Regions from separate parts of the Homo sapiens genome. Here region 2 is linked to region 1. The links come from fine-mapping of genetic effects on gene expression. A gene starts in region 1. The other region holds a variant in brackets. All regions are shown on one strand. Distances are from middle to middle. Region 1 holds the start of MAGI3 (membrane associated guanylate kinase, WW and PDZ domain containing 3). Region 2 has its middle 120 kb from the start of LRIG2.

Region 1 (5,375 bases):
CACTGCAGTTTTCTGCCCAAGAATGAATACAACTTATTCATGGTTGAGGCATGTGGCAAACACTGTTGGATGCCTACTTAGCAACTATTTCCCCTTTTCTGCTCTCAGTCAGAACACTCATTTTGTTTAGGGGTGACTTGTGATCAATTTAATGAACTGTGGCCAATCCTATCTCTTTTTGCCAGTGACTGGTCTGATGTGGCATATGACCATTTTCTGGACAATAAGGAAGATTCTAAAGTCTGGGAAATATTTTTCTCCTTCATAAAAATGGGGGACAGCACTTCCTTTTCTTCCGTTCCTGCTCTGTGCAGTGACCTCTGTGGATGTGATGTCTGGAGCTATGGCAGCCACATTGCAATTAAGAGGTGACAAACCTGGAGACAAAAGCTCACATGCATGTGATGGCAGAGAGCAAACACAAAAAAGAGCTTGGGTCCTTGATGACATGATTGTACTGCTCAACTAACCCTGAAACTATCTGCACTTGAAATTTATATTGAAGATATAGTAAATGACCTCATGCTTTAAGCTACTGCCAAATATTCTGTTCCTTGAGGCCAAAGGCATTCTAACAGATGCAATCTAGACACAGAAAGATGTTTTCCCAGAGTTCCTGCAAAAACAGATGATGTGTAGGTTATGGAGATTTTATCCAGGAATCCATTAGTATAGGTAGTAGTTTAGAAAAAAAATACTCCAAGCTTTGTCTCAGATATGGTTAAATCTGAGCCATCCACATGGTGTCTGTGCTGAATATTTTCCCCTCAGATGCACTGTTTCCTTTTCTGAAACTGACTGATATGAACTATATCAAAAGCCTCCCTTGCCCTCTGGCGTCTGGTTGGACTTGGCCATTGACAAGCACCAGCAGGAGACTGGAGGAGGGTGGTGAGTTAGATATAAATCCCCCAGGTCCTTTGCTGGGTGTTTACTTAGGCTGACTGCATCCGTTGACTGAAGGTCACAGACTCCTGTCAGGTGGCCCTGTGTGTCTGGATTTTTCGGTAACTGTTCTTTCCCGATTGGACAGATCTAGGAGCTGTAGCCTCAGGGTTCCAGCTTCTCTTGTGGTTTCCCACACCCTGCCCACATCTTTGCAAAATGCCATTTGTTTCCTGCCAGGACCCTGACTGATACAATGGTGTCAACGAAATCACTGCAGCTATTGAAGCTTGGTCCAGTCTATCTGAGGTGTGGAGTTTTATAAGGGCTTTCACCTACTATTAAAGGGAGACAGGAGACTACACAAATAAATGTCATGCTGCAAAAGTGAAACAAAGATCATAGCTCAGAGAAAACACTTTCCACTTGAGGGCAAGAAATCAGAGAAAGCTACCTGGAAGAGCCGGCATTTGGGATGAGGACGGATAGGAGTTTTAAAAGAGATGAGATGAAGGGCATTCCAAAGACAGGGAAGAGTGTAAGTCAAGCCGGGGAAGAGAGAAAGCTCAAGTGAAATTTCTGAAAAATTAGAGCTGGAAGGGATCTACGATATCTTTTATTTAATGTTCGTTCTCCCTTCACCTCCTTTAACTGAGATTTGGCCAAGGTCAAACAGCAAGTAAGTAGCATGTCAGGACTCCAACCAGATCTGCTGGCTACCAGGTTAGTTCTTAATAATCCACCTTCTACCTCCACCCCACTCCCTCACCTCAGGCAGTCTGCTTACTTCTCAGTCTCTCCCACTAGACTGTAACCTCCTCAATAGCGGGGCTTCTGTTTTCTTCACCCTTGAATCCCAGTACCTAGCACAATATCTAACACAAAATCGTCATCGTCATCAGCAGCAGCAGCAGCAGCTACCAAACTTTAAGAGGCAACCACCCACTGTCAGGCACTATGCAGTTATTTTGTACATCTTCTGTAATCTTCACTTTTCACTGAGGACGCTGCGGCTCAGAGAGGTTGTCTAATTTGTCTTAGGTCATACAGCAGTGCCGGACTCTATTTTATAATATCTTTCATCAACCGGACTCCGAAGCCCTGCCTCAATGGGCGTTCAGTAACATCTGTTGAATGAACGAATGAACAAGCAATATCCACTCAATGCAAACTATCGGCTGTAACAGGCCACCCTAAAGGCCCCGGAACCTCGGCCGGCTCAGGACTCCGCACGTTGTCTTCCAATCTAAGCACACCGGCCCCTCTCTGCGCCCCGCACAGGCTCAGAGGCTCCGCCCGCGTCTCCGCCTAACTCGCCGGCCACGCCCCCACTTCGGGGAGCTCGGTCCCTCTCGGATTCGAGTTTTCCTCGGCTCCAGCCGCCGCGCAGAGGGCCTCTCCCGGCCCTGCGACCTACAGCCCCTTCCACTCCCCTGCCCCTCCTCTGCGCCCTCCCTCACTCTCCAAACTTCTTTTTTCCACCCTCTCTAAACTTCAGTCATTCTAGTGCCCGCCTCCTCCACTCGCACCGACCAACCAGTGGTCCCCATTCTCGTTGGCGGTCCGCCTCCTGCCCGCCGGGGGCCAATCCCTGGCGCGAGAGTCCAGGGCCGGGGCTCGTTCCCAAGCGCCCAGCCTGTGACGGCAGCGCGCCGGGCGCCGCGCGGCGGGAGGGGGCGGGGCTCTGGATGAGGGATGGGCGAGGGCCGGGGGAAGGGAAAAGGGAGGAGGAGGAGGTTGCGGCTGGTTTGAAAGCGGCAGTTTCCTGGCAGCTTGGGCAGGCGTTGGTCTCCGCGCTACAGCTCCGCAGCGGCCACGATCGATCCCGCGACGGGTCTACGCGCGCTTCTGCGCGCCCCCCACGGATTTTTCCCGTTCCCGGCTCTTCCCCCTTCACCTCCCCGCCCCCCCGCCTCAGCCTTTCCCGCCGCTCGGGCGCTGAGCCCAGGGACCAGCCGGCGGCAGTGACCCCGCCCGAAGCCCCTTCTGGAACCTCCTGGGGACAATTCCCTTTTCCTTTCTTCAGCCTAACCCGCGGTGGCCCTCGCGGAGTCCGGTCAGCCCCGGGGAGCGCAGCCGGGAGGGGCGTCCAAGGGGCGTCTCGCGTCTGGGAACGGCCGGGCCCCCAGCGGGCTGTGGTCGCGGGGTGGGGGCCGGAGCGGCGAGGCCCCCCTTACCGGGCTGCGCGGGCCGCCCAGGGCCCCCGGGCTGAGACGGGGCCGGAGCGGCGCCCCGGCCGCCCGCGCGGGGTCTCCCCCATGGTGCAGCGGGGTTCGGGATGTCGAAGACGCTGAAGAAGAAGAAGCACTGGCTCAGCAAGGTGCAGGAGTGCGCCGTGTCCTGGGCCGGGCCCCCGGGCGACTTCGGCGCGGAGATCCGCGGTGGCGCGGAGCGTGGCGAGTTCCCCTACCTGGGGCGGCTCCGCGAGGAGCCCGGCGGGGGCACCTGCTGCGTCGTCTCGGGCAAGGCGCCCAGCCCAGGCGATGTGCTGCTGGAGGTAAACGGGACGCCTGTCAGCGGGCTCACCAACCGGGACACCCTGGCTGTCATCCGCCACTTCCGCGAGCCCATCCGTCTCAAGACTGTGAAACCAGGTACGCCGGCCCTGCGTATCTGTCTCGGGGTGTTGGGGAGAGGGGCTTCAGGGTGGGCGTCCTGGGAGCGGCGGCACCTCCCCACCGCGTATTGTCCCGGGTAATCTTAGACCTCTAGGGTGTGCCAGACTCCTTGACGAGGGGGAGGGGTGGCGTTGGTGAGTCCCATTTTGCCGAAGGGAAAACTGAGCTCTGGCTTGGCGCGGTTGCTCTGCTAGCTGTGCTAGCTGTCACAGAATTGCGACTAGAAGCTGGGTTTCCTACATTTGTAGCTCCATCTCCCCCCGCAGACAAGAGTTTTTGACTAGAGAAGGCCAGCCTTTTCCTGTGTTGTGCAAAAAGGCCCTTAGGATTGTAACATTTTCTTTGGAACGATCTTACGCATCTTCTAACAGGGAAAAAGGGACTTTACTATAGAGGCACTTGGTGCCAAGGTTACCACCTGGTGTACCTGGAAGGGCTTAGCTGCTTCAGTGTTTCTTGCACTCTAGCAGACATCTCAGAGCTGACAGCCTAACTCTGTCAGTCCAGGTGGTTCAGGTGTCTGAGTACCGATGACGGTACAATATGTGATATGTGGCAGACTGGTGTGTTCTTGCAGGGAGCTGTTGAATAGAGTCTGGGTTTTGCAGGAAGACCTAGGTGCCTAGCGGAGTGAAAGCTTCTGTAACGCTTTTGATTTTACAGAATTTTGTTGAAGTGGTAGGTTAAAGGAGCCTCTGTTGCCCTGGTATCTTTTATGCTAGTAAAAATTGCTGCAAAGCACGTTATGTTTATGGCATACTCGTCAGTTTCAAAGCATTGATCAGAGACAGCATACAGTGAGATCTGATAGTATGTAGTAGTTCTTATGAATTTGTTATAGACAGCATTGTTGGTTTTGTTTCAGCATAGATAGAATGTGGTTCTGTCGTCTTAGATGTTTGTGGGAGAGAGAATTGTGATTGTAACATTATTAGAAACCAAACTGTTTTTCCTTAATGTGCTCTGCTGAGTATACGGTGCATCAAAATATAATGGGCTGGTTAATTGTTACCTGGGCTAGGTAGCAGTCCATCCCTTGATGGCAAAATGCTAGAAAATTCTGGATAAAAATTTAATATGTTATCTCCTTCTCATTTCTTTCTCAGCAGCTCGCTTTGGAAATATTAATATATCTTTAATAGTCCTTGAGCTTAATGGGGCTTGATGGTTTGTGGTGCAGTTTACATATGTCTGTGTATTGTGGATATGTATACACACAGACTCACATGCTCCTAAGGTCATAATTAAGATTTTCTTTCTATAGCGTATTCCATCGTATTCATTTTAAGTGTATGGGTTTATGTGGTGAGGTTTTCTTTTTATTGTTGTTAATTTTTTAAAACTTTGGCAGACTTTAAACAGCTTTTTCTGTATAGTTTTGAGAATTTGTAAATTTTTTTCTTAACTCTAACTTTTACAGCCATGTGTGAAAGGCAGAGGAAAGACTTTTGGGGCTGTAATTCAGCTAGTCAGGCACTGTCTGTAATATGCAAAAGGCTATATAGACAGCATTTACTAGTCTAGCTGCCAAATCTTAGTTCAAATCCCATGAGTTAGTGAATAGTGAGAACATCTGCATCATTTCTTTGTGTTTTGTTTTGATTCGTTAGGGCATAGATGAGAATATAACTTATTTTTAGAAATTTTAAAGTTGATATATTGACATGGAAGCTGGTGTATTCTAAATTATTGTGATCTTTTTTAGAAGACTGAAGAGATGGCTATTTCATAACATTAGTCTAATCTACCTGTTATACATTTTTCTCAACCTCTATATTATATTTAACAATAATTCAAGATTTAGAGCATTAGTAATATTAACTGTGTTGAATAAACATCCTATGCCCCCGTATGTAGTTGACATTATTAGAG
Region 2 (5,375 bases), 200 kb before region 1:
GACCTGGCCAATCTCTGTTAAGAATTCCATTGCAAATGTGGCTTCTCCCTTCCCCCTTCCCCCACTGTCCCCAAACACTGTTTCCATCTCTCCTATAATATTAACATATATTTATAAAAATAAATATTTGTATCAAGAACACATTTATACAAACAGATCTATTTAGGAATGCCTCCTATGTGCCAAGTCGCCCTTTCACATGACTGCCGTCTTGTCTTCGCTTCTGCAATTCTTGAAACCTGCACTCTCTGCCATAGTTTCCCCACTTCTTAGTCCTTCACAGCCTTGTCCATTCTTACCACTCTACTGAGAGAGTCCCAAAGGTTGCCATCGGCTTCTCAGCTGGCAGACAGGGCAGGCTCTCCTCAGTCCTGCCTCCTTCTGGTCCTGATAACCAGTCCCCTCCCTGTCACCTTCTGAGATGCAGCAACATTCCATCACTTCCCACAACCCTACCATTCTGCCTTTTCCTTTATTGGATTTTATTTTCCTCCCACATCCTAAAGGTGGTCATTTCTCAAAGTGATGTCCTTGAACTGATGTCATCCCTTCTCCTACCATAATTTCAGCTCTCCCTGTGGGCAGCTGCATCCCGAGTCTGTGTCTAGCTCTAACCTCCCCTTGGATTTCAGACCCTAATTCCAAGTTGCTTTCTAGACACCTCTTCCTGAGTCACTTCACCCCTAAAACCAACCTTCTCTCCTACGTGAAGAGTTATAAAACATGGCTTCTGCCCCCGGGAGCTCATAACTTAGTCAGAGAGACACACATGCAGATTTTGAAATGTTCTGAGAGCTAATTAACATGAAAGGTGATGTTATAATGAGAGTCATGCCACATGACAAAATGTTAAGGAGTGGCACTAATCACACTGTTCTTACTCACAGTAGAGAGAAGTTGTGGGCTCCATTGCCCAGGAATGGTCTTATAGAACCTGGGTCCCATCAGTGAGGAGGAACAGAAAGGGGTGTGCATTCCAGACATGCAGGGTAAGGAAGGACCTTTCAAAGAACATTCTTTTAACCTACATTCAGCCACGCCGGGAATGATGCTTCTTGACCTGAGGTAGAACTGCTCCCTTAGGGAGATTTTGGAGGCCCTTTTGTTGTTAATTGTTACAATGACTGGGGGATGCTAGCAGCATTTAGCGCCTGGAACTCAGAAATGATAAATGTCCTGCAATGAGCGGGTTAGTCCCATGTCCAGCCAGTAGTGCCTAGGTTGAAAAACAACACATGTGGGGTAATGGGACATTGACTCTTCCCTGTCGTCTCCATGCTCCCAAGAACTCCATTCTGGCTTGTGAAAAACTAGTAATGGAATTACTCGTATATGAAAATAACTAATGCCCGATAGACAAACCAAACAGTTGCCTAGGGCACCAGCAAACAGAGAGAAAGAAGGATAAGTTCAGCTGTAATGAGCTTATTCACAATTTTGCAGGCAGAAAATCTAGAAAGTTGCTTTTTAAAATTTTAGCATAAACTTTCATGTTAAACCAAAAAATAAAATTTTATTTTGAATTTCATGTGCTATAAAATTTTATTTTGAATTTCATGTGCGAGTCCCTGGAAACTTGTCAGTGCTTAGGGCAATAAAGACATTAATCAGGTTGTAGGAGTATCCCATAAAAAAGCTATAAATGTGTGATTGAGGAGTTGCTGGAAATATTCACGATGCTGACAAGGCTCATCTCAGGGAGGCAAGACTGAAAAGGAATGTAATTAGGAAATCTAATCGGTGGAGCTCTATGTTGTCTGGGGGAAGACTGTAAACAGATGATGAGAGACCAGTCACTGGTCTGTTGGTCAACAAATACTTATCCACTAACTACTGTGTCCCAGGCACTGGGCTGGGCACTGGGATACAGTGGAGAACAAGACAAGTCCCTTCCTTCAGTGTGTTTACATTCTGGAGTTGGGGAGGGAAAAACAGACAAAAATACCACAGACACAGACCCATTTATACACACCCAGACAGACACGCAGGTGATCACAGGTCAGCAGAAAGCCTAGAGAACAGTGAGTCAGAACCATTTTGCAAGTTTTTCCAGCCCTCTCAGGGGAGGTCAGTGGCCACTTGATGATGGGATCCCCAGGTCTCAGCAGGGTTGGTGAAAAGGAACCTTGAGGCTACCTACCTTCCCTTGTCCCTGCATACCCTGTCCTAGCCCAAGGCGCCGAACCTGGCAGCGGCATCCTGTGTGGGGCAGTGTGGTGGGCGGTGCCCAGCGCTAGGAAAATCCCCAGGGTCACAGCTGGGGAATCTGAGCCCTACTCAAATCTGGGTGGCTAGGAGCAGAACTTGACCAGGGGAAGGAGGCGTACGAAGATCCTGATTGCACACCAGGTAAACGGTTGGAGCGTGTGTTCTTGCCTTATTGGCTGTTGGGCTTGCGGGGGTGTGGTCTGATTTAAAGGAACTGGGAATTATTTTATGAACAATTCAGCCTGGTGTCAGAAGTGTGTGACTCAGAGTCCCAACAGGAAACAGATGTCACACTCATTAGAGTAACTCAAGGAGGGTGAATTTAACAAAGGTGTGGGTGAAGTCGTGGGAACCAGAAGGGATGTTGGGGTGTTTTTGCAGCCCGTAAGCTGAGCTGTATACCACCCCAGG[C/T]CCAAGTGAAAGGGGAGGGAGTGGACATTGAAACCAGGAAGTAAAAAAGTCATGTAGAGGAAGGTAGAGATGACAAGGTTACCTTGAGAGAGACTGAGGGGCACAGCCAGCCTTGGGCCTCCTCATGGGGAGGCAAGGTCCTTATGGGGGACCCTGTTCCTCTGCTCTGCAGTATTTGTGAGCTCCCCATTGGCCAAACCCAGTGAAAAGTCAGAGGACAGAGTGAGCAGAAAATAAGCAGGGCATGGTGACCAGTAGCCAAGGATGCAGGCAGTCCTGTAACACCCTCCATTGTAAACCAGGAACCCTGTCTCCCATGAGGTTAGCTAGCTTCAGGAAGAAAGAGGAACTATGCACCAGCCTGGCGTCTGCCCTGATGTGACTCTTATCTTGCCTACCTAACTCCATCAGGTACACAATGTTCCCCTTTGGAGCTGTCTACTTCTTTCTCCCCATGCCACACTACCTGTGGCCACCACCCTCTCTTGCCTGAATTTCTCTAACAACTTTGCCGTCTCATCCAGTCCTCTTTTTTTTTTTTGAGATGGAGTCTCACTCTGTCACCCAGACTAGAGTGCAGTGGTGCAATCTCGGCTCACCACAAGCTCCGCCTCCTGGGTTCACGCCTTTCTCCTGCCTCAGCCTCCTGAGTAGCTGGGATTACAGGGGCCCACCACCACGCCTGGCTAATTTTTGTATTTTTAATAGATATGGGGTTTCACTATGTTAGCCAGGATGGTCTCAATCTCCTGACCTTGTGATCCGCCTGCCTTAGCCTCCCAAAGTGCTGGGATTACAGGCGTGAGCCACCGCGCCCGGCCCATCCAGTCCTCTCTTGACCATGCAACCAGATCTTTCCAACGTGCTGGCCTGAGCCTATGATTTCCTTCCCTAACACCACCTCACCACAGCATCCAAATGAAATCTACACAGCTTACCATGGCTTATGAGGCCCTTCATGATCTGGCTCTGGTTTACATTTCCAGCCTCATTTCTTGCCAATTCTCATTCTCCCCTCAACAAATGCCCCTCCTCAAATCCATCCCACTATGGTCCAGCCATACAGAACTGCTCTCTGATCTCTCTCTGACCCCAGGGCCTTTGCACATGCTATTTCTCCTCCTGAAAGTCAGGAAGTCAATTCTAACGTAACTCTTTCTCATTCCTCATTCCTTTGTTGCTGGTTGGGGTAGGCAAGGGTTCTGTGCCATTCTTATATGCTCCCATAGCACCCTGGCCCTGCCCAAATCATAATTTTAAAAAATTAATTCAATAGATATTTACTGAGTACCTGTAATGCACCAAGCCCTTCCCACCTCAGGGCCTTCTCTCATGCTGTTCTTTCCACTTGCACGTTCATCCTTCTACTCTTCATCTGGGTAACTCTTACATATTCTTTGAGTCTCTGCTGAAACATTATTTCCTGCAAGAGGTCCCCACCCCTTTTCTCTCCCACAGCATCCTGTATGACTTCGTTTATTTGATGTCTGTCTGCTTCTCTCCACGTGGGAAGGGGCCAGGTCTGTTTTATCCATGATAGTGTGCCCATCCCTAGCTCAGAAATCTGGCATGCAGCAGGCACTGGTTACATATGTGGTAAAGGAGGGAGGCAATAGGGTTCTCCCATTAGACCATGACAAGGAATAAAGAATTGTATGTTCCAGGGGTGAACTCAGGTTTTGTGGGGCCTGAAGCTTAGACAATTTGAGGTTTTATTTATTTATTTTTTTGAGACGGAGTCTCACTCTGTCACCAGGCTGAAGTGCAGTGGCGCGATCTCGGCTCACTGCAACCTCCACCCTCCGAGTTCAAGCGATTCTTCTGCCTCACCCTCCCAAGTGACTGGGATTACAGGTGTCTGCCACCGTGCCCGGCTAATTTTTGTGTGTTTTTAGTAGAGATGGGTTTCACCATCTTGGCCAGGCAGGTCTTGAACTCCTGACCTCGTGATCCACCCCCCACTTGGCCTCCCAAAGTGCTGGGATTACAGGCATGAGCCACCACACCCGGCCGAGGGTTCTCTTTAAGAAAAACACAAAATTACAGAAACAAAATTAGGCAGGAAAGTGGACCTTTATGTAGATTGGGAAAATAAATAAATTGTAAAGCTTTTAAAGTGGAAAAATACTTCAAATATCACAAAATATAGAAAAATAATATCATGTTTTTCTTAGTTAACTGCCTAACACACTGCAATAAGTCTTTCTCCACATTTTTTGGCTGAATAATACTCTTATTGCCTCATCATATGTAATGATTTTGTAATATTTTCCATATAGAGAATGGAATGAGAATTAAGTCCTCTGGCATAATAAAAATTATATTTATGATTGATGGGATGCATAAACACATGTGACCACAGCCAGACATACTTGTTTGTAGGACCGCTACAGTTTGTATCCTACGAACACAGGAATTCTGATAAATTATATTTGTCATTTTAAAAAGGGGAAAAAAAGGAAAGCATGTACTTGTATCGCCGCATTACTCAATATATATATGCCTAATGCATATGACTAGGTATCAGTGAGAACTGGATTCTGCACTTACAATCTTACACATCCGATGATTGGAAGAATTTCCTACAGACTAGCTTTTGGCTCTATACAGTTCAAATCTTGTTTCTCCTCCATTACCCACATGCTTCCAGGGCCAGGTTGCATAGGACACTCGCAAATCTCATATGGTCTTTGGCCCGGCATTTGAGTGTCATAATGCCAGATAAGTTGGCACCACAGGCAGTAAGCATGTTTCTG

The links. PIP is the estimated chance that this variant, and not a neighbour inherited with it, causes the effect.
Region 2: its variant is the best candidate, but not a certain one, in a credible set for the expression of MAGI3 in whole blood (TOPMed, PIP 0.72).

What each region holds. Positions count from the first base shown.
Region 1 is chr1:113,387,871-113,393,245 of GRCh38, forward strand. MAGI3 (membrane associated guanylate kinase, WW and PDZ domain containing 3) reads left to right here and starts at 2,645. Exons shown (of 21, transcript NM_001142782.2): 1 at 2,645-3,479. The coding sequence starts at 3,164. RefSeq lists silencers at 977-1,221, 2,211-2,260, 2,291-2,650, 3,061-3,190, 3,251-3,410 and enhancers at 3,091-3,590, 3,641-3,690.
Region 2 is chr1:113,189,485-113,194,859 of GRCh38, forward strand. No RefSeq gene overlaps it. Among named protein-coding and RNA genes, the nearest start is that of LRIG2, 120 kb to the left of the region's middle. RefSeq lists an enhancer at 2,731-2,840. The variant C/T (reference allele first, on the strand shown) is at 2,620.